3 separate regions of the Homo sapiens genome follow, and regions 1 and 2 are each linked to region 3. The links come from fine-mapping of genetic effects on gene expression. A gene starts in region 3. Each other region holds a variant in brackets. All regions are shown on one strand. Distances are between the middles of the regions. Region 1 overlaps BSN (bassoon presynaptic cytomatrix protein). Region 2 overlaps CACNA2D2 (calcium voltage-gated channel auxiliary subunit alpha2delta 2). Region 3 holds the start of APEH (acylaminoacyl-peptide hydrolase).

Evidence for each region. PIP is the estimated chance that this variant, and not a neighbour inherited with it, causes the effect.
Region 1: its variant is fine-mapped to the expression of APEH in blood mononuclear cells (TOPMed, PIP above 0.99).
Region 2: its variant is fine-mapped to the expression of APEH in whole blood (TOPMed, PIP 0.96).

Annotation. Positions count from the first base shown.
Region 1 is chr3:49,574,841-49,583,017 of GRCh38, forward strand. All of the region lies in intron 1 of BSN (bassoon presynaptic cytomatrix protein), which reads left to right. Among named protein-coding and RNA genes, the nearest start is that of BSN, 24 kb to the left of the region's middle. The variant G/GA (reference allele first, on the strand shown) is at 3,780.
Region 2 is chr3:50,473,831-50,482,007 of GRCh38, forward strand. CACNA2D2 (calcium voltage-gated channel auxiliary subunit alpha2delta 2) reads right to left here. Exons shown (of 38, transcript NM_006030.4): 2 at 2,288-2,369. Among named protein-coding and RNA genes, the nearest start is that of CACNA2D2, 26 kb to the right of the region's middle. The variant C/T (reference allele first, on the strand shown) is at 3,751.
Region 3 is chr3:49,670,757-49,678,933 of GRCh38, forward strand. APEH (acylaminoacyl-peptide hydrolase) reads left to right here and starts at 3,595. Exons shown (of 22, transcript NM_001640.4): 1 at 3,595-3,657; 2 at 3,733-3,865; 3 at 4,427-4,553; 4 at 4,938-5,031; 5 at 5,135-5,210; 6 at 5,300-5,463; 7 at 5,622-5,759; 8 at 5,853-5,944; 9 at 6,021-6,061; 10 at 6,147-6,268; 11 at 6,817-6,877; 12 at 8,096-8,177. The coding sequence starts at 3,646. BSN (bassoon presynaptic cytomatrix protein) reads left to right here. Exons shown (of 12, transcript NM_003458.4): 12 at 1-793. RefSeq lists a silencer at 3,280-3,889.

The DNA.
Region 1 (8,177 bases), 96 kb before region 3:
TTGGCCAGGCTGGTCTTGAACTCCGGACCTCAAGTGATCCGCCTGCCTTGGCCTCCCAAAATGCTGGGATTACAGGCATGAGCCACCGCACCCAGCTGGTGTCCCTTTTTTATATTACTCTTCTGAGTTCTGGTATGTCAGTACTTTTGAGTTTTGACTATGTTGATGAGACTCTTCTGGAATTTTTTCTTTTGGCTTAAAATTTTAAAAAATTATACAAGTAAGGCCGGGCGTGATGGCTCACGCCTGTAATCCTAGCACTTTGGGATGCCAAGGCGGGCAGATCACTTGAGGTCAGGCTTGAGTTGCCGAAGATCAGCCTGGGCAAAATGGCAAAATCCCATCTCTACTAAAAATACAAAAATTAGCCGGGCGTGGTGGTGGGCACCTGTGATCCCAGCTACTAGGGAGGCTGAGGCAGGAGAATCACTTGAACCCGGGAGGCAGAGGTTGCAGTAACCCGAGATCGCAGCACTGCACTCTAACCTGGGCAAGAGAGTGAGACTCTGTCTCAAATATATATATGTGTGTGTATATATATGTAAATATATATGTGTGTATATATATGTAAATATATATATGTGTATATATATGTAAATATATATGTGTGTATATATGTAAATATATATATGTGTATATATGTAAATATATATGTGTGTGTATATATATGTAAATATATGTGTGTATATATGTAAATATATGTGTGTATAGATGTAAATATATATGCGTATATATATATTTGAGACAGAGTCAAATATATATACATATATATGTGTATATATATAGTATATATATGTATATATATGTGTGTGTGTGTGTATATATATATATATATATACAAGTAAGACACAGACACATTCTTGGAGTAATATTCAAACAATTCAGTCATATATTGAAGTACAACGTCCACTGCCCCTTTTTTTCTAGTGCAGTCCATCTCCACCTTGGGTCAACTTCCACTGCCCCTTCCTTTTCCAGCATTATTACTTTTCTGGGCATATTTCTAGGATCTTTTTAGAAGATTATAGGATCTTTTTAGAAGATCCTAGAAATATGCATTTATATCTGTGAACCTATTGTGAATATACACACGCATACTTTTTTGAAGAAAGATCATACTAAATGCATTGCTTTGCACCTTGCTTTTTTCACTGAACAATACGGGAGATACTTCTCCCCACCCTCCCACTTTTCAGAGAATTAGCTGTTTTGGTCCCAGATAACTTTTGTAAGAGACAAGGTGTTGTCTCTTACTGAATTAGAGTAACCGCTGGTGCCTTTTGGGGCTGTTGGGTACTCCTGTGTCCCAGGTGAATCTCCAAGTAAACCACTATATCTTCTGTTCTAGCTGGATTCCTACTTGCTCCATCTCTGAGGGCACTGTGAGCTGCAGCAGCATCCTGCTTGGGGAGGACAGTGGCCTTGTCACCTAGGTTCTGCCTTTGGATTCCAGGGAGCTTCCAGGCTCTTGTCTCCCTTTCTGGCCAGGGCTGTCTCTTGAATGCAGGAATATCTGGGAAATTCCCTGTTTCTTCCTTGGTAAGAGGTGTGAATTCACTTTTCTTTTTTTTTCTTTTTTCTTTTTTCTTTTTTTTTTTGAGACAGAGTCTTGCTCTGTCACTCAGGCTGGAATGCAGTGGCACGATCTCAGCTCACTGCAACCTCCATCTCCTGGGTTAAAGTGATTCTTCTGCCTCAGCCTCCCAAGTAGCTAGGATTACAGGCACCCACCATGATGCTCGGCTAATTTTTTGAAATTTTAGTAGAGATGGGGTTTCACCATGTTGGCCAGGCTGGTCTTGAACTCCTGGCCTCAGGTGATTCACCCACCTCAGCCTCCCAAAGTGCTGGGATTACAGGCGTGAGCCACTGAGCATGGCCTCACTTTCTTTATTCATACCCTCATATCTGGGCAGTCTGCCTTGCTCAGGCTCATACTCATCTGAGCAGAAGACTGCTTTCAGAGGTTCCCTGGGAGCAGGGCCATTGCAGCATGAGTAGTCATTTGCAGCCAGCATCCTGCCTTTCTTCTTGATGCCAGATGGTGCCCTACATTGGTATATGCTGCCTGTGTCCCTTCAGAGACTCAACCCCAATCCGGAAGGAGGGTGGTTCCCATCTCTCTGGAACTCTTCTCCAAAGGTTTTGGTGTTTGGAATTTGAAATTTTTTTCTAGTGCAGTCCATCTCCACCTTGGGTCAGACCTCCTTTCCAGGGCACGATAGTGCTTGGAGTCATTCATTTATTCAACAAATATGTATTGAGCACCTGTTACATGCCAAACACTGTTCTAGGCAGTACTTAATGTTGGCTACTAATTATGTCCTGCTCCCGAATTTCTTCGCTATCTTGCTTGTTTCCCTATGGCTTGTGAGAGGCTTCTGCCTCTAAATTTACCCCAGGAATATGAATTTTGAATTTCTAGGCAATCAAATTACAAGAGTTTGTTCCTGGGTTTTAACTCAAATTCTACCCTACTGGGAACATTTTTTATCTTCTATGAAATGGCAAACAGCTAGGAGACATGTTTCCTAGGAACTGGCCTTCTTGGTGCATTTCAGAGGAAGCACTTCATTTCAGAGGGTTGAGATTGTGAGAGCAGGGCTTGGAGGCCAGGAGTTCCCAGGCCAGGTCCTAGCCTTGCTGCCTGTTTTTCTGTTGACCTTCAGCTGCTTTGTTTCTTTTTTCTTTTCTTTTCTTTCTTTTTTTTTTTTTGTGAGACAGAGTCTCGCACTGTCGCCCAGGCTGGAGCTCAGTGGCATGATCATGGCTTACTGCAACCTCCACCTCCCAGGTTAAAGCGATTCTCCTGCCTCGGCCTCCCAAGTAGCTGGGATTACAGGCATGCACCACCATGCCTGGCTAATTTTTGTATTTTTAGTAGAGATGGGGTTTTACCATGTTGCCCAGGCTGGTCTCAAACTCCTCACCTCAAGTAATCCACCCGCCTCGGCCTCCCAAAGTGGTGGAATTACAGGCATGAGCCAACGCGTCAGCTTGCTTTGTTTCTTTAATCTTTAGTTTTCTTGGAAAAAATGGAAATGATAAGAATACCCACCTGTGTGGTTGTTAGGCAGGTATTATGTAAAGGAAGAGCCTGCTACATAGAGTGAGCTGAGAACTGCTGGGGGTAGCGGGGTTACTGTCCTGATTCCCAGCAGTGAAAGGCATTTAAATCATTACAGGTTTCACACCTAAGTTTTCTTTTTTCATTTTAAACATCACTTGTTATTTTCTAATTTTGTGGATGCTTAATACATTAGCACACTAATACATGCTTACAATTTAGAAACGAATATTGCATATTTGGGGGCTGTAGGCTCGGCTATCCTTTTCTTAAAGACAGGACCGTCCTTGTTGCCCACCTAGGATGGTCTCAAACTCCTGCCCTCAATGCTGCCACAGCCTCCCAAGTAACTGGGATTATAGGCACAAGCCACTGTGCCTGGCTAGTTACTCTTTTAAAAATATCTTTCTGAGATATAATTCACTTACCATAGAATTCACTCATTTTAACTGTGCCATCCAATGGTTTTTAGTGCACTTAGAGTTCTACAACCAAAGCTACAGTTTTTTTTTTTTTATAAGACGGAGTCTCGCTCTGTCGCTCAGCCTGGAGTGCAGTGGTGCGATCTCAGCTCACTGCAAGTTCCGCCTCCTGGGTTCACGCCATTCTCCTGCCTCAGCCTCCCGAGTAGCTGGGACTACAGGTGCCCACCACCTTGCCCGGCCAATTTTTTGTATTTTTAGTAGAGATGGGGTTTCACCGTGTTAGCCAT[G/GA]TGGTCTCAATCTCCTGATCTCGTGATCCACCCGTGTCGGCCTCCTAAAGTGCTGGGATTACAGGTGTGAACCACCGCACCTGGCCCAAAGCTACAATTTGAGAACATTTTCATCACCCACAAGAAGAAACCCCATACCCAAAATGTCACTTTCCATTCTTCCCCCCTCTATCTATCCTCCAGGCCTAAGGTAACCACTAATCTACTATCCACCTCTCTAGATTTGCCTATTCTGGACATTTCATATAAATGGAATCATGCAATGTGTGTTTTGGGGGTTTGGCTTCTTTCACTTAGTGTGTTTTCCAAGGCTCATCCAGGATGTAAGATGTAGTGTGTATCAGCACTTCATTCCTTTATTCATTTATTTGTTTAGAGAGGGAATCTTACTCTGTCACCCAGAGGACATGGAGGCTGGAGTACAGTGGTATGATCATGGCTTACTGTAACCTCAAACTCCTGGGCTCAAGAGATCCTCCCACCTCAGCCTCCCAAGCAGCTAGGACTACAGGCATGCACCACCATGCCTGGCTAATTTTTTTTTTTTTTTTAAGTGACAGAATCTTCCTATGTTGCCCAGGCTGGTCTCAAATTCATGGCTTCAAGTGATCCTCCTGTCTCAGGCACCCAAAGTGCTGGGATTACAGGCATGAGCCACTGCACTCAGCCAGTTACTTCTTTCCTTCTTATTGCCCAGTGATATTTCATTGTATGGATGTACCACATTTTATCCATTTATCAATAAGTATGATTTTAGGTATGGGTTTTTCATAGATGCGCTTTACAATTTTTTTTTTTTTTGAGACGGAGTCTCGCACTGTTGCCCAGGCTGGAGTGCAGTGGCAGGATCTCTGCTCACTGCAGCCTCCGACTCCAGGGTTCAAGCAATTCTCCTGCCTCAGCCTCCTAAGTAGCTAAGATTACAGGCGCCCGTCACCACGCCCAGCTGATTTTTTCTTTCTTTCTTTTTTTTTTGTATTTTTAGTAGAGACAGGGTTTCACCATGTTGGTCAGGCTGGTCTCGAACTCCTGACCTCATGATCCACCAGCCTCGGCCTCCCAAGGTGCTGGGATTACAGGTGTGAGCCACCGCACCTGGCTAGATGCGCTTTAAAAAATTGAAATTCCTTTCTATTTCTAGTCTGTTAAATTTTTTTAAGCATAAAAAGGTATTGAATTGGAAAAGGTATGAAATGCTTTCTGCATCTATCAAGATGATCATGTAGTTTTTGTAATCTTGATAGATGGTTTTTGTCCATCATTCTATTAATATGCTATATTAATTGATTTTTTAGATGTTAAGCCATAATTGCATGTCTGAGAAAAATTCATTTGGTTATTATATTAAATCCTTTCTATATGTCACCGGATTTGTTTTGCTAGTAGTTGTTTATAATTTTTGCATCTATAGTAACAAGATATATTGGTCTAAAGTTTTCTTGTGATGTTTATGTCTGTTTTTTTACAAATTTAATTTGATTATTTTATTTTGTTTATTTCATTTTATTTAGATACAGGGTCTCATTATGTTCCTGAGGCTAGATTCAAACTCCTGGGCTCAAGTGATCCTCCCACCTTATTCCCCTGAGTAGCTGGGACTACAGGCATGTGCCACCACATCCAATTTATGTGTGGTTTTGATATCAGGGTAATTGTGGCCTCATGGAATGAGTTGAGAAGTGTTTTATCCTGTTCTATTTTTTGGAAGAGTTTGTGAAAGATTAATATGAAATCTTAAGACAGTTTTATTGAGATATAATTAATATGCCAGAAAATTTACCCATTTAAAGAGTATAATTCAGTGGTTTATTACGTATTACATTATAAATTTTTTTAGGATCTTGCTCTGTCACCGAGGCTGGAGTGCAGTGGTGCGATCATGACGCACTGCAGCCTCAGCCTCCTGGGCTCAAGCAGTCCTCTCATCTCAGCCTCCCGGGCTCAAGCAGTCCTCTCATCTCAGCCTCCCAAAGGGACTACAGTCATGCACCACCATGTCTGGCTAATTTTTTAATATTTTGTAGATATCAGGTTTTACTATATAGTCTAGACTGGTCTCGAGCTACTGTACTCAAGCAATCCTCCTGCCTCTGCCTCCCAAAGTGCTGGGATTTACAGGCATGAGCCACTGTGCCTGGTCACATTATTAATCTTTTAAAAATGGTGATAAAATATAAATATCATAAATTTGCCATTTTAACCATTTTAAGTGTACAATTTAGTGGCATTAATTACTGTATATTCATGATTCATGTTGTGCAACCATCACCACTATCTATTTCTAAAATTTTTAATCACCCCAAACTCTGACCATTAACCAGCACCTCCCCATTGACCCCTTTCTTCAGCGCCTGTTAACTTTTTTTTTTTTTTCTTTTTGAGACAGGGTTTTGCTCTCATCACTCAGGCTGGAGTGCAGTGGTGTAATCTTGGCTCACTGCAACCTCTGCCTCCCGGGCTCAAGTGATTCTCATGCTTCAGCCTCCCAGGTAGCTGGGCCTACAGAAGTGTGCCACCATGCCAGGCTAATTTTTGTATTTTTAGTAGTAAAGACTGGGTTTCGCCATGTTGGCCAGGCTGGTCTTGAACTCCTGACCTCAAGTGATCTGCCCACCTCAGCCTCCTAAAGTGCTGGAATTACAGGCATGAGCCACTGCGCCTGGCCTATCCATTTATTGATGGGCACTTGGGTTGTTTCTACTTTTTGACTCCAGTAGTCCCCCCTTATCTGCGGTCTTGCTTTCTGTGGTTTTAGTTACCCACGGTATGGTACAATCATATTTTGAGAGAACACATTCATATAGCTTTTATTACAGTATATTGTTATAACTGTTCTATTTTATTATTAGTTATTGTGAATCTCTTATTGTGCCTAATTTATATATTAAACTTCATCATAGGTTTGTATATGTAGGAAAAAACAAGGCTGGGCATGGTGGCTTACGCCTGTAATCCCAGCACTTGGGGAAGCCGAGGTGGGCGGATCACAAAGTCAGGAGATCGAGACCATCCTGGCCAACATGGTGAAACCCTGTCTCTACTAAAAATACAAAAATTAGCTGGGCATGGTGGCACGCGCCTGTAGTCCCAGCTACTTGGGAGGCTGAGGCAGGAGAATTGCTTGAACCCAGGAGGCAGAGGTTGCAGTGAGCCGAAATCGCGCCACTGCACTCTAGCCTGAAGAGAGAGCAAGACTCTGTCTCAAAAAAAAACCCAAAAAACAAAACAAAAAAAAACAAACTTTGTGTATATAGGCATCTACTGGGGGTCTTGGAACATATCCCCTGAGGATAAGTGGGGGCTACTATATTGTGAATAATGGTGTAATAAACATTGGCATTCAAGTATCTGTTCAAGTCCCTGGTTTTACTTCCTCTGGATATAAACCTAAGAGTGGAATTCCTGGATCATATGGTAATTTTATGTTAGGCTTTTCGAGGCGCTGCCAAAAATTTTTCTGTAGCAGCTGTACCGTTTTACATTTCCACCATCATTGTATGAGGGTTCCAATTTTTCCACGTCCTTGTCAACACTTGTTATTTTCTGTTTATTTTGTTTGTTTTTAGTAATAGCCTAAAGAGTGTGAAGTGGTATCTTATTGTAGTTTTGATTTGCATTTTTCTAATCAATGGCTTATTGGCCATTTGTAAATCTTTAGAGAAATGTCTGTTCAAGTCCTTTGCCTATTTTTGTTTTCAAGACAGGGTCTTGCTGTGTTGCCCAGGCTGGAGTTCAGTGGCTATTTACATTTGCAGTCATAACACACTACAGGCTCAAATTTCTGGGCTCAAGCAACCCTCTTGCTTCAGCCTACTGAGGAACTGGAACTACAGGCCCAGCTGAAATGAACTGCCTTTTGTGTGTTGATTTTATATCCTTCAGTTTTGCTGAAGTTGTTTATTAGTTCTAACTTTTTTGTGGCCTGTTTAGGGTTATCTACATGTAAGATCATGTGGTCTGCAGGTAGAGATAATTTTACTTCTTCTTTTCCAATTTGGATGTCCTTTATTTATTTTTTTTCTTGCCCAATAGCTCTGACTAGGACTTCCAGTACTATGTTAGATAGAAATGGTAAAACTTCCTTGCACATCGTTGTCTTGTTTCTGATTGTAAAGGGAAAGCTTCTAATTTTTCACTATTGAGTATTATGTTAGCTGTGAACTTTTCATAAATAGTCCTTATCATATTGAGAAAGTTCCCTTCTATTTCTAGCTTAAGTCTTTTGAATCATGAAAGTGTATTGACTTTTGTCAAATGCTTTTTCTGCATCAATTGAGGTAAACATATAGTTTCTTCCCTTCATTCCCTTCATTCTATTAATATGGTGTATTACATTTATTTATTTATTTATTTATTTATTTATTTATGAGACAGGGTCTTGCTCTGTTCCCAAGGCTG
Region 2 (8,177 bases), 800 kb after region 3:
CCCAGAGCTGTTGGCAGGAAGTAAGAGGCTGAAGAAGCAGAGGAGGAAAACTAGAGCAGGACAGAGAGCCGCTGGAGCGCTGGCAGCCATCGGCAGGCAGAGACACTCCACCAGAGTGCCAGGAGAAGCCGGGGATGCCAGGTCAGCACTTCTCTGCCTGCCTGCCTGCCACGCTGAGCACGGCCCTGCTCTGGCCCAGCTCCCTACTGCCCCAGGCTCATCTTGTCCACCCTACCAAGAGGGGAAGTGGAGCCACAGCCGGAGCTGCACGTTGGAACAGGAGTCAGGAGCCCTGGGTCCATGCCCCAGCTCTGCTACAAGCCAGCAGCATGACCACCTTGGTGACTGCTGGGAGGGAGAGGGTGGGGGAGACAGGCTCACTGATGAAAGTGTCTAGAATCTCTCAAGTCCCATGAGAAAGGAAGGGAAATTATCCCTGGGAGTGAAAATGATCAATGAGGGAAATTCAAATTTGATTTCCAAAAAAGGGGCGTATCTGTATCAGCCTGTCCATTGCTGTTTTCACCACTTCATCCTCCGGTCAGACTTCCCAGCTGTGTATGGGTCAAGAATGAGGATCAGAGAGGATCCAGGCTCACCCAGGGGCACATGATGGTACGCTGAGCTGGGATTCCATCTCTGGTTCTCAGAATCTAGCAAGCTCACTGGTCCAGACAGACCTCGGCCATGACGTATGAACACTATTTTCTCATTGCCAGACATTCAGAGCCTGAGTTGCCCGTGAATATAAAATAAACAACATCTTCAAGCTAAAGGTTTGAGGCATGAAGGATTATTGACTGGAGGAGTACCGTTAACTCCTGATATGTGGTATAGCTTATGTCCCGATATGAAACTTGGAAAGGTGCTGGCTGCACACATCAGGGAGCTATCATTCCTTCATTAGCCCACACAGCTATCCTTGGCAGTGGCTACTTGGAGCCTGGTTAGTGCTGGGTGCTATTCCTGAGCCTAAATTGACTCCTGTTCCGGAACAGCTTTTTCTACAGCACTTTCTCTGGAAAGCTCTGCTGGCCTCCAAGTGCGGCTGAGTCATTCAGAGTTCACAGGAAGACAGTGTGATGGAGGCTGCTGACATCCAAGCCCAGCAACCAGGAAAGGGGTGTTTAGTGTCGCTGGGCCACTGGCAGGGAGGACACAGACCTCCAGACCTGGACTCTCCCTTCCCACGGCGTTGCCACGTACTTAGCCACCCATGACCAGCCCCAGCCTGTGCCAGAGGTCCTACATTCACACCCAATGTCAACACACTGGCTGCCACCCCCACTTCCTGGGCACCAGCTATAAGCTAAGCATGAGGAAGGGATTGAGGACAACCCCTACGGTCCCTGCCCCACCGAGGTTACATCTGCTGACCCTGGCCCTGACCAACAGGGACAACAGGAACACAGTGGGTATATAATCTCCAAACCCTGGACCTGGACTCCTGACTGAACCAGCAACAGTAGGTTGGCTTACTCTGCTGTTCCCGAGCCAACTCTCAGTGGGAGACCCCCATTTAATCCCCTGCTCAGTTCTGGTCAGTACCTCCTGGCCCAAGCCCCCGGCAACAAGATCCTCAAAGACTGCACGTACCCCGAGAGTCGTAGCTCCATCACTCCAAGAGCTCGGCCCTCCCAGCCTCTGCATCTCCACGTAGAGAGCAATGGCTCAGGAGCCCGGGGCCTGACAGCAGCACATTTTGCAGCTTCCGGGGGTGATGGATGGCCTGCTCTTCACATCACTATTTCAAACATTAACATAATCTCCCAGGATGGATGTGGTGGCTGGTGCCTAATCAATCACCCCTCCCACACCTTGATCCCTCATCCCACCAGGCATGGGATTTCCACTGTCTCCTGCTACAGCACCTCAAGCACCGCTTTCGGGCTGGTATGGACCGGCCATCCCGTTGTTTCCTGGATCCCTTCAGCTCCTGTGCACCCCTGCGTCCACTGACCCCTCCTGGGCCTGGGCTCCCACCCCAGGTGTCCCTCAGACACAGACCTCTCCCTCCTGAAAGCCCAAAAAGCTCCAAATCCCTTTCAGCAACAGGGTCATCGTCCAAGCCGGGTGGTGGCTCCGATCGTTGCCTCAGGAAGAGCAGGCCAGGCCCCAGAGGAGTGCTGCCCATCCAGTCATGTCCCACCTGCCCCCACGGGCCCATCAGGTCCCACCACACCAGGACCTCCATTAAACCAAATCTTCCTCACTCCTTATTTCTGAAGCTTTTCCCCTTCCCTTGGAAGAGGGTCCCTGAAGAGACAGCAAGTGGCACCGGGCTCACCTCACGGAGCTGCTGGACGCCTCCAAAAATCCGCATCACGCCGTCGACCTCCTGCTCCAGACGCCGGGCCCAGTGCTGCATCCTGTATGCAGAGAGAGGAGAGAGGTGTCAGGAGGGCCTGCCCAGAGCTGCACAGCCCCACCCCAGCCAACCCGGGGGCACTGGGGGCAACTATCCACTCACACCCCAATTTTCACTAGAGGAGGACCCACAGCAAGGAACCAGCAAGCACCTGCGATTCCCCTTTGAAGTCCAGACCCAGTGGCCCAGGTGCTCCTCATGCACTGTGGGGTGGCGAGGAGGAGAGAGGATTGCATTGTGGATGTGCTGAGGGAGCTCAGCAGCTCAGAGAAGCCTGCAGTGAGGCTACTTTTCATTGTGAAGAGCCAGCCCTTGATGTAGCTGCTCTGAACTTGGGGACTTCTGGACACCAGGGAGGAGGGAGACATGAGGGAGCCTCAGGGAGTGAGGTCTGCTGGATCTTGGAGCCTCCTGTTCCCAAGGCCAGGTGGGGCCTAGAGAAGGGGACGGAACACTGCTGTCACCAAGTCATTGTGTAACTGGGCAGGTCCCTGCCCCTCTAGGTCTCACCTGAGCAGTGGACGTGGAGAGTTCCAGATTAGGCAGCCCTTGCCTATCCAACACCCTGGTAGACAGACGCTTACCCGAGGCTCATTGCTGGATGTCCAGCAGGAATCACCCACTCAGGAGTCCACTGCAGACCATCCTGCCTCACAATCCACCTGAGCCACATCCTGAGCAGGTCTCCCTCACACTGGTACCACCCTGGGATTGCTCTTTGTTTCTTTTTCTTTTTTTTTTTTTTTTTTGAGACAGAGTCTCGATCTGTCGCCCAGGCTGGAGTGCAGTGGTGCGATCTCTGCTCACTGCAAGCTCCGCCTCCAGGGTTCATGCCATTCTCCCGCCTCAGCCTCCAGAGTAGCTGGGACTACAGGTGCCCGCCACCACGCCTGGCTATTTTTTTCTATTTTTAATAGAGATGGGGTTTCACTGTGTTAGCCAGGATGGTCTCGATCTCCTGACCTTGTGATCCGCCTGTCTCAGCCTCCCAAAGTGCTGGGATTATAGGCATGAGCCACCGTGCCCGGCCCACCCTGGGATTGTTTTAACCCATTTCCATCTCAGCTTCCTTCTCTGGAATACGGGGATAATTTGGGGCCACCTTTCAGGGTGTTATAAGAACACATGAGAATAGGTAAGTCAAGCGTGTTCGCTGCATGGGGATCTTTGTGAGTGGACAGGATGGACAGTTGGTCACGTGGCCCTCTATTCTCAGACCCACAACCTGGAAGAAGGAAGGAGTCTGGGGCAAGGCCTTGCCTGGGTTCAGATACATGACCCACTCCCTTAAGCAGAGCCAGATCAGGCGAGCAAAACCACACTAGACCTTGCCAGAGGCCAGCCAGAGAGAACCACACAGAACCACAAAGGTGCTCTTTGCC[C/T]TCATGCATTTGAAAAGGTATCTCAACTTCTCCATCCCACTTGACACACTCCCATTTTACAGACCAAGACCTTTCCAGGAAGGGCGCACAAAAAAGTTACCATGAAGATTTAAATAAGCCATGGGTCAAACACAGCCCACAGGGTACAGTAGGGGCAGGGTGATGCCAGCCCCCCAGCCTCTGGAGGTACCCCGGGAGCCATGGGGTACAGGAGATTGCATCTGGTCCCAACTCCCTGGGCCTGCTGCCTCCTCCAGTGCCACTTGGGCCAGGACTGTTCTGGCTCCATGGATCAGAAGAGCCCAAGCCTCTACCTGGCCTCCTGCCCTGCCTCCTCCACTCAGGCCTGTGACTAAGGGGCTGGGCCCATGCAACTGTATGTGCCTGGGTCGGTTGGCATGGGAACTCGGAGCAGGAGGCAGGCAGATCACTAATTGCAATTTGCCAAGCTGAATGTCAGGACCATGATGGAAAAAAAAAAAATCAACATCAAAAGAAAGAGGTATTAGCTTCGGCTTGTTGCTGGCTGAGCCACAGCCGGATTCCCTCCTCCGCTCCCCACCACAGGGGAAAATCTAACCCTGAGTGCGGGTGGAGGCCAGGCTGCAGGCTGGGCTAAGAAGGGCAAGCAGGCCTCAGCTGCCAGCCTGGGGAGGGCAAAGGGCAGCAGAAAATTGACAGCCTGCGTGACCCCTGGCCCCTGTCCACCAGGGCCTGGTTGTGGGTGGACAACATAGCGGATGGCTCCTTTGTGCTCCTGCGATGGAGCCCTGGGGGCTAATGTTGGGATGGGCTATCACAGTCAGCCAGGCAGGGGGCAGACAAATGGGCAGAGTGAGGATCTGATCCCCAAAGGGAACCATTAGCTCTGCCCTGGCCCTGACCCTGACCTCAGCCACTCACTGGTGTAGAGAACAAAATGCCAATCAATCCTTCCTGGGACTCATTATGTGCGAGGGCATCCACTACGTACAAGGTGCAGTGCCAGCATGTCACCTACTTTCTCGCTTCAGTCCTTACAAAGAAGCAAACATTATCATCCCACCTTACAGATAAGGAAACTGAGGCATAGTGGGTTCAACTGACCTGTACAAGGTCACCTATCCAGGAAGTAGTGAACACAGGACTTGCCCTAGAAGTGTGCTGGAGTCACAAAAGCTGACTCACAAAAGCTGATTCTGTGCACCTCTTTCCAACTCTGCATTTGGTACCATCACCTGAGGAGCTTGAAATAGGTCATGGTGGGAATATTTACACCACAGGAATTGGCAAATGCTAGAAACCATGTTTTTCCCCCTGGAGAACAAATTGTAAACATTCAGCAGCACATTACTGATTCCACCCCAGGCTGTTGACTCTTCTAGTATGTCTATAGGTCCCTGCTTCTAGGATTTCACAGTTAAGTAAAAGAAAATTAATTGGGAGAAGAGACATGGATGCCAAGTTTTATTTTGCTCAGACAACACATTATTATAATCATCATCATTTCATCTAAAAAGGCTATTTCAACACTAAAATAATTTTTAGAAGAGCCAAGTCTTAGGATAAAGTCCAATCCTTCCCCAAGATATACACGCTCACTCTCCCTCCCTCCTTGTCTCTCTCTCTCTTACGCACAGTCTCCTTACTCCCACCCTGAGGCTGAGTAGCTCTAGACTCTGCTATGGGCTGCAGGAACTGGCCTGCTATGACACAGCAGGCCACACACATGTCCTCCCAAGGTCTAGAGGTGGCTCCAGCCCTTTGCCTGGCATCCTGGACCTGCTGGGCAGACCCCAAGCCCTAGCACATTGCCCATCAGCACAGTGCCAGGGAAAACAAGTTACTTTGATTATTCACTTAAATCAAACTCAATTAGGAGGCAATATGTGTGTCTCAGAGTTAAAAGAAAATAATTCATTCCATTGTCACAGAGATGTGACTTTGTGGGTTCTAGGACTTCGCCAGTGTCCCAGTGCCACCTCCAAGGGGTGACACAGAGGCCCTGAGGGGGCCAGGAGTTGACTATGCACCTGCACTGTTCCTGCCTTGTGGACGAGAAGCCACCCACCAAGCCAGGTCCAACCCTGGCCAGGGAATCGTACTCACTCCAGCAGAAGGGAGGGGGCCTTGGAAAGACAACGGATGCATGGGAATGTCCCTGCCCCCACTGGGTCAAAGATAAGCTGATCAAATCCTGCCCAGACTTCCCTCTGCTTGGAATCAAGTGCCTGGCTCAGCCAATGCCTCCCTGACCAGACAATGTTGCCCACAGGCCACACACCCAACACGGAGGTGGACCTGCTGGCTCCCCACATCTTTGTAATTTTCCATGCTTTTCATTGAGATGACACTGCTTATCCCTAATTGCTTCTAAGTGCCAAACTAACAAGGCAGTGAGGGGAGAGTGGCCAGGAGGAGATGTAGGCATCTAGGGGCTGCAGTGGCTTAATGACTGGTGTGGGCACAAGAGACTAGGGATCAAGTCACGTCCTCCAATGTGCCCAGCCCTAGGGAGGTGAACACATTGTGGCTCCATTTCCCAGACAAGAAAATTGAAGCCCCTGGTAAGGATGGGTACAGGGTCACATACTTAAAGAGAAACAGACTTGTCCTGACTCCATCTATTCCATGATCCCATCTTTCCAGGACATTGTAGCCTTTGGGAAGCCTCAGGGGAAAGGCACTTCTGCCGCTGTGTGACCTCAAAGAGTTCTGTCCCTCAGAACCTCAGCTTTTCCATCGGTAAACAGGGGTAATAATGACTGGCTGAATAGTTTTTAATGGTCAAATCCACAGGCTTTTACTGGACAGTCCCCTGAGGGCTAGCAGCTCATGCAATACAGCCCCTCCCCTAAGACCTAAGGACTTATTGAGGGCTCAGGACATCTTCTATGAAAGCTTGTGTGGGGGGTGGGGAGGCTTGTGGGGAGGGGGCACTGCAGAAGAGGCCTAGCAGGCTGAGGCAGCTCTGCAGGTAAGAAGATGACACCCTGAGTTGCAGGATGCCAGGCCTTGGTTTCCAGGGCATGGTTCAGAACCAAGAGGAGTTGGGGAGGGAGAGGGGATATCACTAACAGGCAAGGGAGTGACATCATCTGTGCGTGGGGTGAGAAGCTGCAGCTGAGCACCCCTTTAGCAGACAGGATCATTGAGACCCCAGCTAGAAGGCTGGGGGAGGCTGCATGTCAAACTGCATCGCATTCAGGTGGGGGCTTCCAGCTTAGGGGCAGCTGCAAATGCTCAGGGGAGGGGGAGGGTAAAGAGGAAGGGGGTTGGAATGGGGAGGAATGGGTACGGGAACGGGAACAGGGAGGAACGGGAGGAAAGGGGAGGAAGGGGGAGGAAAGGGGAGGAAGGGGGAGGAAGGGGGAGGAAGGGGGAGGAGGGGATGGGGAAAAGGGAGAAGAGTCCGTGTGCAGATGCAGCAGCATAGATTAAACTGTTGCCAGTTGTTAATTTTATATGTGGAGTTGTTGATCAGAATGTGATTTAATTGTACAGTATAATCCAGGCTTTTGGAATAAATTATGCAGAAAACTCATCTATAATTAAACAAATCAAAAAACCAGAGACAGGTGACACAGCAGGTTCACCCTCAGAGGGCACGGGTGGGTGTGGGCAGCTGGACCCAGCAGAGGGGCGAGAAAGGATGGGGGAGGGGCTCTGTTCAAGAGCAGACAGGGGCAGGCCCCGGAAGGGTCAAGGCCTGGTAGGGAGCAAGGGGCTCGGAACACCCGAGCTCTGCCTCTGTGGGCCTTCTTACCACTCACACGGAGGCATTTTTTGTCATCAAAGCCCTGCTGCCTCTCCCAGATGGCCTGTCTGGATCAACCCTGTTCCACTGGGCACCTATAATCAGTCTGTGGCCTTCCCTTCAGCTTGGCAGTTCAGCCGCTGCGCTTCGTGAGGGAGTGAGGGGTGGATACTAGGGGTGGGCAGCAGGGGAAGCAGGAGGGCTGGATGACAGGACAGCAGGAGGCTGGGGCAGGTGAGCAGTGTGAGGGAGCAGGCACAGTGAAGGCCACTGCTGCCAAGTGCACGGTGAAGCAAACTTGGCAATGGCGGGGCCCCACGTCTCTTGCTTCTCTCATGATAGGCTGGCCAATTATTCTCCCAGCTCTGGGGAAGGCAACAATTTAAAATAAAGTGCAGGCTGGGCATGGTGGCTCACCCCTGTAACCCCAGCACTTTGGAAGCCCCAGGCGGGCAGTTTGCTTGAGCCCAGAAATTTGAGACCAGGCTGGGCAACACGGTGAAACCCTGTCTCTACAAAAAATACAAAAATTATCTGGGTGTGGTATCGTACACCTGTAGTCCCAGCTACCCGGGAGGCTGAGGTTGGAGGATCGCTGAGCCTGGGAGGTCAAGGCTGCACTGAGCCAAGGCCATGCCACTGTATTCCAGCGTGGGTGACAGAGCGAGACTGTCTCAAAAAATAAAAATAA
Region 3 (8,177 bases):
CTTCACAGTGACAGCCCTCCCCTACAATCCTTGGGCAGAGCATGTGGTCTGAGGGCCCACAGTGAAAGAACAGCAGTGGTGGCAACTATGCCTTGCCTTCTGGAGCCTGTAGGGAGTTTTCCAGGCAGGTCCTTTGCCAGGACAGCATGGTCCTGCCCTGTTGTCCCGTCTGCTCTCCTCTTACCCACCCCCATGCTGTAAATACTTGTCATCATGGACTCCAACAGGGTTAGAGGGACAGGCCTAATCAACTGAAACTCCTCGGAGATGCCATCTCTGTCTCCCTGGGTGCCAGCAGCCCTGCTGCCATGTGCACTGGGGTGGCACTGGAGAGCCATGGCAGTCGTGAGATATTGTATGTGTATGCACATGATCATGTGTGTATGTGCGTGCGTGCGTGCGTGTGTGTGTGTGTGTGTGTTTCTGCCTCATTCAGTTTCTGGGGTCAAATCAGCTCCTTCTCTCCAAGTGCACTACCCTGGAGAGTGGTGGCCACTCAATACCTTTTCCTCTAGCTTTCATGTCTTGTTTTTGCTTTCCCCTTCCTCCTCCCTCTCTCCCTTTCTTTCCTTCTCTCCTTCTTTATTTGAGGGGGGAAGAGTGCTGTACAAAGTCAAACAAACAAGTTTACAGTTGTAAGTGCAATGACCCGAGTCCTCCACATGACCTTGTGAATTGTGTGCTGTCCTTCTGTGCTCTGTGAGAACTCGTGGTACTTCAGTGTCCCTCCCCCTGTATTGTGACAAGGTAATTCTGTGGTATCAGAATAAAAGGACTTGATATAAACAACCTACAGACTGTTTCTGGGATGGTTTCTCAAGTGGGAAGGCTTAGCTGAAGGAGCAAATCCCCAAATTTGCGACAATCCTGTCCATGGTTAAAGGGAAAAGGATGGACAAAGTTGCAGAAGTGCTGGCACAGCACGGGGCTGAGTCCACACCAAGCCATCCAAAGACAATGGGCCCTCCACAAAGGTGCCCAAGGGGAGGTCCCAAGCTTGGACCTGGAGCAGGCAGTCAGTGCGCAGGCTGTTGAGGGACAGCACCTCCATGGCCTTCAGGTGTGTTGGCTGCATACACAGCTTTCTGGGACCTGGTTCCAGGGAGGCAGTGAACAAGTGCTGCCCCCTGGTGCTGCCAACAAGCCCTACACCTCTCTGCCTTGCTCCGAATTTTCCAACCCCCAAACTCTCACCGGCTGCCAGACCTTAGGCCTTCCTCAGATGGTCAGGAGTACCTCCTTACCGAAGTCACCCAGAGTTGCTAGACCTTTTTTTTTTTTTTTTTTTTTTTTAACACAGATAAACAGGAATCCCAGCTTCACCTCTGGCCCTCTCCCCAGAATTAACATTTTGATGCGTGTCCTTCTTTCCTGTTTGTTGTTCCAGTCTTCATTTTAAACAGAAGCCAGAAGGTGCAATATATCCTGTTTTCTAGCTTTCTGTTTATTTCCACGTTTATTTCAGGTACTTAAATGTTCGTCTTCCAGTGCTCAACCTCCAGAGAGATACACCATTAGTTCATAGCCAGTCTACCACACACAATCTAAGGAACAGGCACTATGTTCCCAGTGTTCCTATTATAAACAATGCTTGATGAACATCCTATTTTCCAATCTTTCCACCCAAATTGGTGGCTGGGGCCACTCATTCTACTCCTGTTTCTGGCCTTGATACAGTCCTGTACATACTGACAAATGCAGTGGCGTCAGAAAGTTGGGACTCTTTTTTTTTTTTTTTCTTGAGACGGAGTTTCACTCTTGTTGCCCAGGCTGGAGTGCAGTGGCATGATCTCGGCTCACTGCAACCTCCACTTCCCAGGTTCAAGCGATTCTCCTGCCTCAGCCTCCCGAGTAGCTGGGATTACAGGCGCGTGCCACCCAGCCCGGCTAATTTTTGTATTTTTAGTAGAGACAGGGTTTCTCCATGTTGGCCAAGCTGATCCCGAACTCCTGGCCTCAGGTGATCCACCCGCCTCAGCCTCCCAAAGTGCTAGGATTATAGGCGTGAGCCACCGCGCCTGGCACTTTTTTTTTTTTTTTTTTAAGATGGACTCTGGCTGTCGCCCAGGATGGAGTGCAGTGGCGCGATCTCGGCTCACTGCAAGCTCCGCCTCCCGGGTTCACACCATTCTCCTGCCTCAGCCTCCCGAGTAACTGGGACTACAGGCGCCTGCCACCATGCCCAGCTAATTTTTTGTATTTTTAGTAGAGACAGGGTTTCACCGTGTTAGCCAGGATGGTCTCGATCTCCTGACCTCGTGATCCGCCCGCCTCGGCCTTCCAAAGTGCAGGGATTACAGGCGTGAGCCACCGCGCCCGGCCGGCCGGGACTTTTTTTTTTTTTTTTTTTTTTTTTTTTACTTAACTAGTTATCTTGAGTAAGTAATGATGCGGCTGATGGGAAAGGGGAAGCTACAGGCCAGACAAGTGGACTCTCAATCACAAGCACGCCATGGAGCAGGGAGCCAGGGCCCTGAATGTGGAAGACCAGCCAGACTCAGGTATATGGAGGGAACATCCTTACTGTCCAGCCTCTCCTGATCTCTGTTGGCACCTTAGCCCAGCCAATCCTGTACCACGTGCACAGGGAACCTGCCTGCCTAGGTTTTTTCCACAGGAAGCTCCCTGGTCCTGGGTGGAGTCTGAGCCCACCAGGCCTTTCACACCCAAGAGCTCAGGGTGAGGCCTGGGGAGGAAGGCAGGGACCCACCAGCTCACGGTCCCCAACAAGGTGCCACTGAGAAGGCTGGGTAAAGGCTGCGGGGATAGATAGCTCTTGCGGCAGGCCTGGCGACTGATAAGTCCGGGCAGCACCCTAAGAGTTGGCACCCGCCCCTCTGCCCCGCACCCCAGGGCTTTGCTTCGCGCCCTCCGCCCGGACCCTGGCCCTTCTCTTCTTCGTCTGCGTGGAACTCCCTCCAGGGCAGGGCCTGGCACTGTGTAGTGAATGTCGGCCTCGTGGTGGACCCGAAGGAACCCTACAGTCAGCCCCAGAGCCGCGGGAGATCCACGCTGCGGCCGGCTCCGCCCCGCCCAACCCTCACCCTCACGCTCACGCTCACGCTCACGCTCACGCTCACGCTCACAGGCTCCCGGCTCCACATTCCTCGCAGGGCTCCAATCCGGACCCGCCCGCCTTGCCCTTCATCCTCAAAGACTCATTGGTCCCATTCCCCTCGGGCCCCGCCCTTCGCGTGCTTGGGCCATGCCCGTCCGACCGCGCTGCTTCCGCCTTGCAGCACCCCCTCAACCCCTTCTCTCGTAGGCCCTTCTACCCTCCCCGAAGCCGGGCTCCCGGGTTCCGCTTCCACAGGGCCGCCCCCTCTCCTCCGAGATCCAACGCCTCGCCCCTCGGTAAGAGGCCCAGGACTCAGCCCACGGCCCCGCCCCCCACTTGGCTAGTCCGCCCCTGGCGAGACCCCTGCTCTCACCCACCCAGGACTTCTCGCTCCCAGGCCGGGTCCTCTCACCGTCAAGGCCCGCCCCCTGCCAACGGTCCTCACCCATTAGCCGAAGGCCCCGCCCCTCACAGATTGCCGCAGGGCAGGGGCGGAGACAGCCCGGGCCGTCCCAGGCTCCGCCCCCGGAAGCCTCACTTCCGGGCGCGAGCACGCCCCGCCTCGCCCCGGCGGCAGAGAGGAGACTATGGAACGTCAGGTGAGGGCTCGGCCCGCGGTCCCCGTGGTCCCTGCAGCCCGGGCCGGGCCTGACCCTGGTGTGTCCCCTGCGCAGGTGCTGCTGAGCGAGCCCGAGGAGGCGGCGGCTCTGTATCGGGGCCTTAGCCGCCAGCCCGCGCTGAGCGCCGCCTGCCTGGGCCCGGAGGTCACCACGCAGTACGGCGGCCAATACCGGACGGTGCACACTGGTGTGTGTGCGAAGGGGAACTGGCTGGCGACGGGGTCGCGCACTGGGGTGGGAAGGAAGGGGGTGTGGAGGGCTCGCTGCTTGACAGTGCGTAAGGGTATATAGGGAGCCGGCCTGGACTTGGAGGTTACACTCCCACAGGTCCCTGCACACAGGTGTGTGGAGGGGGGGAGGGGGCGTGCGGGGCGTTATCGAATGGCGGCCATGAGTGCACGAGATGACGGCGTAGGGGTAGAAGTCAAACCTGGGCTCAGGGCGTGGACCTTGTAGGGCTCTCCACCAACACGCCATCCCATACACATGCCAGGCTGCCCTCAAGATTCCAGGGTGGATGCTGGGGTTACTAGGGGGTTCTCTCAAAGAGGCTGTCAGCTCAGGCTCTGGAGGCCTGGACTAGGGTTGTGGCCAAGTGTTGTCCAGCCTGCAGCCAGGGTGTCAGTGTCTGGAGACAGATTGAGAGATTGGGGAAGATAGATCTAGGCCTTCCTGGGTCAGGTGGGGCTGGGGGCAGTAGCCAGGAGTAGCCAAGACAAGGTGAGCAGTCTCATGCCTCCCCTCACAGAGTGGACCCAGAGGGACCTGGAACGCATGGAGAACATTCGATTCTGCCGCCAATACCTGGTGTTCCATGACGGGGACTCAGTGGTGTTTGCAGGACCTGCAGGCAACAGTGTGGAGACCCGGGGGGAGTAAGTTTGAGGGAGGAAGCTTGTGGGCAAGGCCACAGCCGTCCGCAATGCAAGCCTTTTATGAATGCTCACCATGTGCCTAGAAGGGAGGCCAGCAGCCAGGTTCTTGCCCCCTTGGGAGCTCATTCAGTTTCTGGTGACATGGCCTGATAAGCACTGGAAGCTTGCTCCAAACTCAGCCTGGACTAGAGCCCATGGTGGCCTGGGGAGTTGCAGAGAGTAGAGTCTCTGCCTCAGGGAGGAAAGGCAAGGTGGGGCTAGAGGTGCTCCAGAAGCTGGTGTGGGGCCAGAGCCTCAAGAATCTCTCCTAAGAGGTGTGCCCAGTAGGGAGCAGGAAGGGGTTATTGCAAGATAATCCTGACCTGTGCTACCCCATGTCCACAGACTGCTGAGCAGAGAGTCTCCTTCAGGCACCATGAAAGCTGTGCTGCGCAAGGCTGGAGGCACGGGCCCTGGGGAAGAGAAGCAGTTCCTGGAGGTGAGTCTGCATGGGACCAGGTAGTGGGTGACAAGAGAGAGGCTCTGCCCCACAGATAAGGCTCTGTTAGCGGGCAAACAGCCTAATGCCCAGATGTCCTCAGGTCTGGGAGAAGAACCGGAAGCTCAAGAGCTTCAACCTGTCAGCGCTGGAGAAACATGGGCCTGTTTATGAGGATGGTGAGGCATCTGGCTGGTGAGCAGGCAGGGTGGACAGGAGGGGTAGCCGTAGCCCTGGGCCCCCCCTGATTGGCCCTCCCTGCACCCAGACTGCTTTGGCTGCCTGTCCTGGTCGCACTCGGAGACACACTTGTTGTATGTGGCAGAGAAGAAGCGCCCCAAGGCCGAGTCCTTCTTTCAGACCAAAGCCTTGGACGTCAGTGCCAGCGATGATGAGATAGCCAGGCTGAAGAAGCCAGACCAAGCCATCAAGGTGCTCGTGGTCAATCCACGAAGGCCCGGCAGGGCAGCCCTGGGGCTCAGTGTGCTCCCTTCCCATACTGTGCCTGTCAGACCTGGGGAGGCACTAGCTTTTAGGAAGCAGAGCAGGTCCTATAGACAGGCTGGGCATTGAGTATCTTGTGTTCTCAGGGGGATCAGTTTGTGTTTTATGAAGACTGGGGAGAAAACATGGTTTCCAAAAGCATCCCTGTGCTCTGCGTGCTGGATGTCGAGAGTGGCAACATCTCTGTGCTTGAGGGGGTCCCTGAGAATGTGTCCCCTGGACAGGTCAGCAGCAACAGCCTGTGTCCCCCCTGGAGTCTGGGACCCTTCTTGAGCTACCACCCCTTGCTCACTCCTGCCCTTTGATCCTGTTTACAGGCATTTTGGGCCCCTGGAGATGCTGGTGTGGTGTTTGTGGGCTGGTGGCATGAGCCCTTCCGGTTGGGCATCCGCTTTTGCACCAATCGCAGGTGAGGGAGTGGGGCAAGGCAAGGGGCCTTGCAGCCCAGCTGGCCTTGAGACTGAGTGTCTGTCTCGTGGTTCCAGGTCAGCCCTGTATTATGTGGACCTCATCGGGGGGAAGTGTGGTAAGTGGCTGATGCCCACCTGTGCTTTGCTGACACATGTTGGCCCTGCCAGCCTGCGTGATGCTCATGTTTCCATCTGGCCCAGAGCTCCTCTCGGATGACTCCCTGGCTGTCTCTTCTCCCCGGCTGAGCCCAGACCAATGTCGCATTGTCTACCTGCAGTACCCATCTCTGATCCCCCATCACCAATGCAGCCAGCTGTGCCTGGTGAGCTGGAGGTGGCAGGGATGGGAGGGTGGTCAGCAAGAAGATGGGATGGTGGATGAGAGCTGAAGGGCCAGTATCATCTCCCCATAGGCCCTCAGTAGGTGCCCTTCTGTCCTCAATGCAGCAGCGGTGTGAGTTCTGCCTGTCCTCTCAAGGAGGGCCTAGAGGTTGAGAGTGCTGCCATGGAGAGCTTTGCACTGTTGGGGCATTCCACCTTGAGAGAATGCTCGTCTGCAAGAATGCTCCTCCCCTTGGCTCTCAACTGCATGTAGCCAGGCTCTGCAAGGGGCTGGGATATAGTGGGGAGTTACACAATCCCAGACCCTCCCCAGGAAGAGCTCTGGGCCCCTGGTAAAAGTCAGAGGGACATGCCTATCTGAGGCCCCTTGGGCATCTGGTCCAGGTCACCAGAAAAGAGATACATCAGGCTTATTCCAGTTCCCCCATCTCCTGGGGCTACCTGAGGCAAAAGGGGATAGGCACAGGGCACTGTGCCCTAAGGGAACTGCCTGTCCCCTACTGGACCTGACCATTGTGTTCTCTTGCAGTATGACTGGTATACCAAGGTTACCTCAGTGGTGGTAGATGTTGTGCCTCGGCAGCTGGGAGGTAAGGCATACCTGGCTGGGTGGGTGCAGTGGGGCCTGTAGCTCTGCTTTCCTGCCGTCTGTTGCATCCCTGCCCCGTTCTTCTTTCCTAGGTTCCTTCTGAGGGCCCTACCTCCCTGCTGGGCCAGCCTTATGCCCAGCATCCTCAGGGAGCGGGGCTGTCACCATAGGGAGCGGGGCTGTCACCGTAGGGAACAGTTCAATAGCAAGGAGTGGTAGGACCAAGCTGAGATCAGAGTGGCCCAAGTTGATGATGTATTATTTCCTGTGCTGCAGGTCATAATTAGAGTTTTCTTATTTTTCCAATGGCTGGTTCAAACCAAAACCATGACTCCTTCAAGTGGGTCTCAGGAAGTGCACTAGGTTGGAATGTCACACTCGAGAGGCTCTGGACCCGAGGGCATGATATTATCCCATCCACCATCCTAACCCCAGCAACCTTTGTCCAGTCTAAGCCCTGAAGTCAGCTGGGTCTTCAGGAGGGTGGCTCTTGGCTGAGAGGCTCCCGTCTCGAGTGTTGATAGCTCTGCTTGGATCCTCCTGGACCATCTCAAGGATGAGTCTCTTGTTTTCTCAGGCCACCCGGTCAGTTCCAGGAGTTCAGTGGACAAGGGATAGCCTCTTTGTCTTCTCTTTGGGTTGCAGGGATGCAGTGGTGGGAACCTAGTATGAATCCCAGCTCTGCCCTAAATTAGCTGTGTCCTCAGACAGGGTCCTGGCCTCCCTGAGCTCCCATTTCTTCATGGAGGGGTGATTGTGTCTGCCTGCCTCATAGGATCATAGTGAGTGTTAAGTGAGTGATGATATTAAAGGGTAGGATTTACTGAGCCCCCTGTGCCAAGCGCTGTGCTAAGCACCACAGTGGAGATAAGACGGACAGATGATATCTTGGTTAAAGCACCTGGTACCTACCTGGGTTCAACTGGAATTACTCAGGAGAGCAAGTGCTTTTCCTCTGAGCACCCATGGTTTCTCTCTGGAGCTCTTGAGCTCTGCCTCTCTGGGTCCTCTCTGGGTCCCAAGAGGCCTCTGCCCCTCAGCCACCTACTCAGGCAGCTCCTCATCGCGTAGCGTGCCCCCATGTGTGCTACAAGCTGCAGGGGCCTGACTGGTGCCTGAGTAGGGCCCTGGGTGAATTCCCCAGTACCCTAGCCTTCCTTGTAGACTACCCTCCCTACCTCCACTCCTGGATGCAGCCTCAGCCCTCCTATCTTTACAGAGAACTTCTCTGGGATCTACTGCAGCCTTCTGCCTTTGGGATGCTGGTCAGCTGACAGCCAGAGAGTGGTCTTTGACTCGGC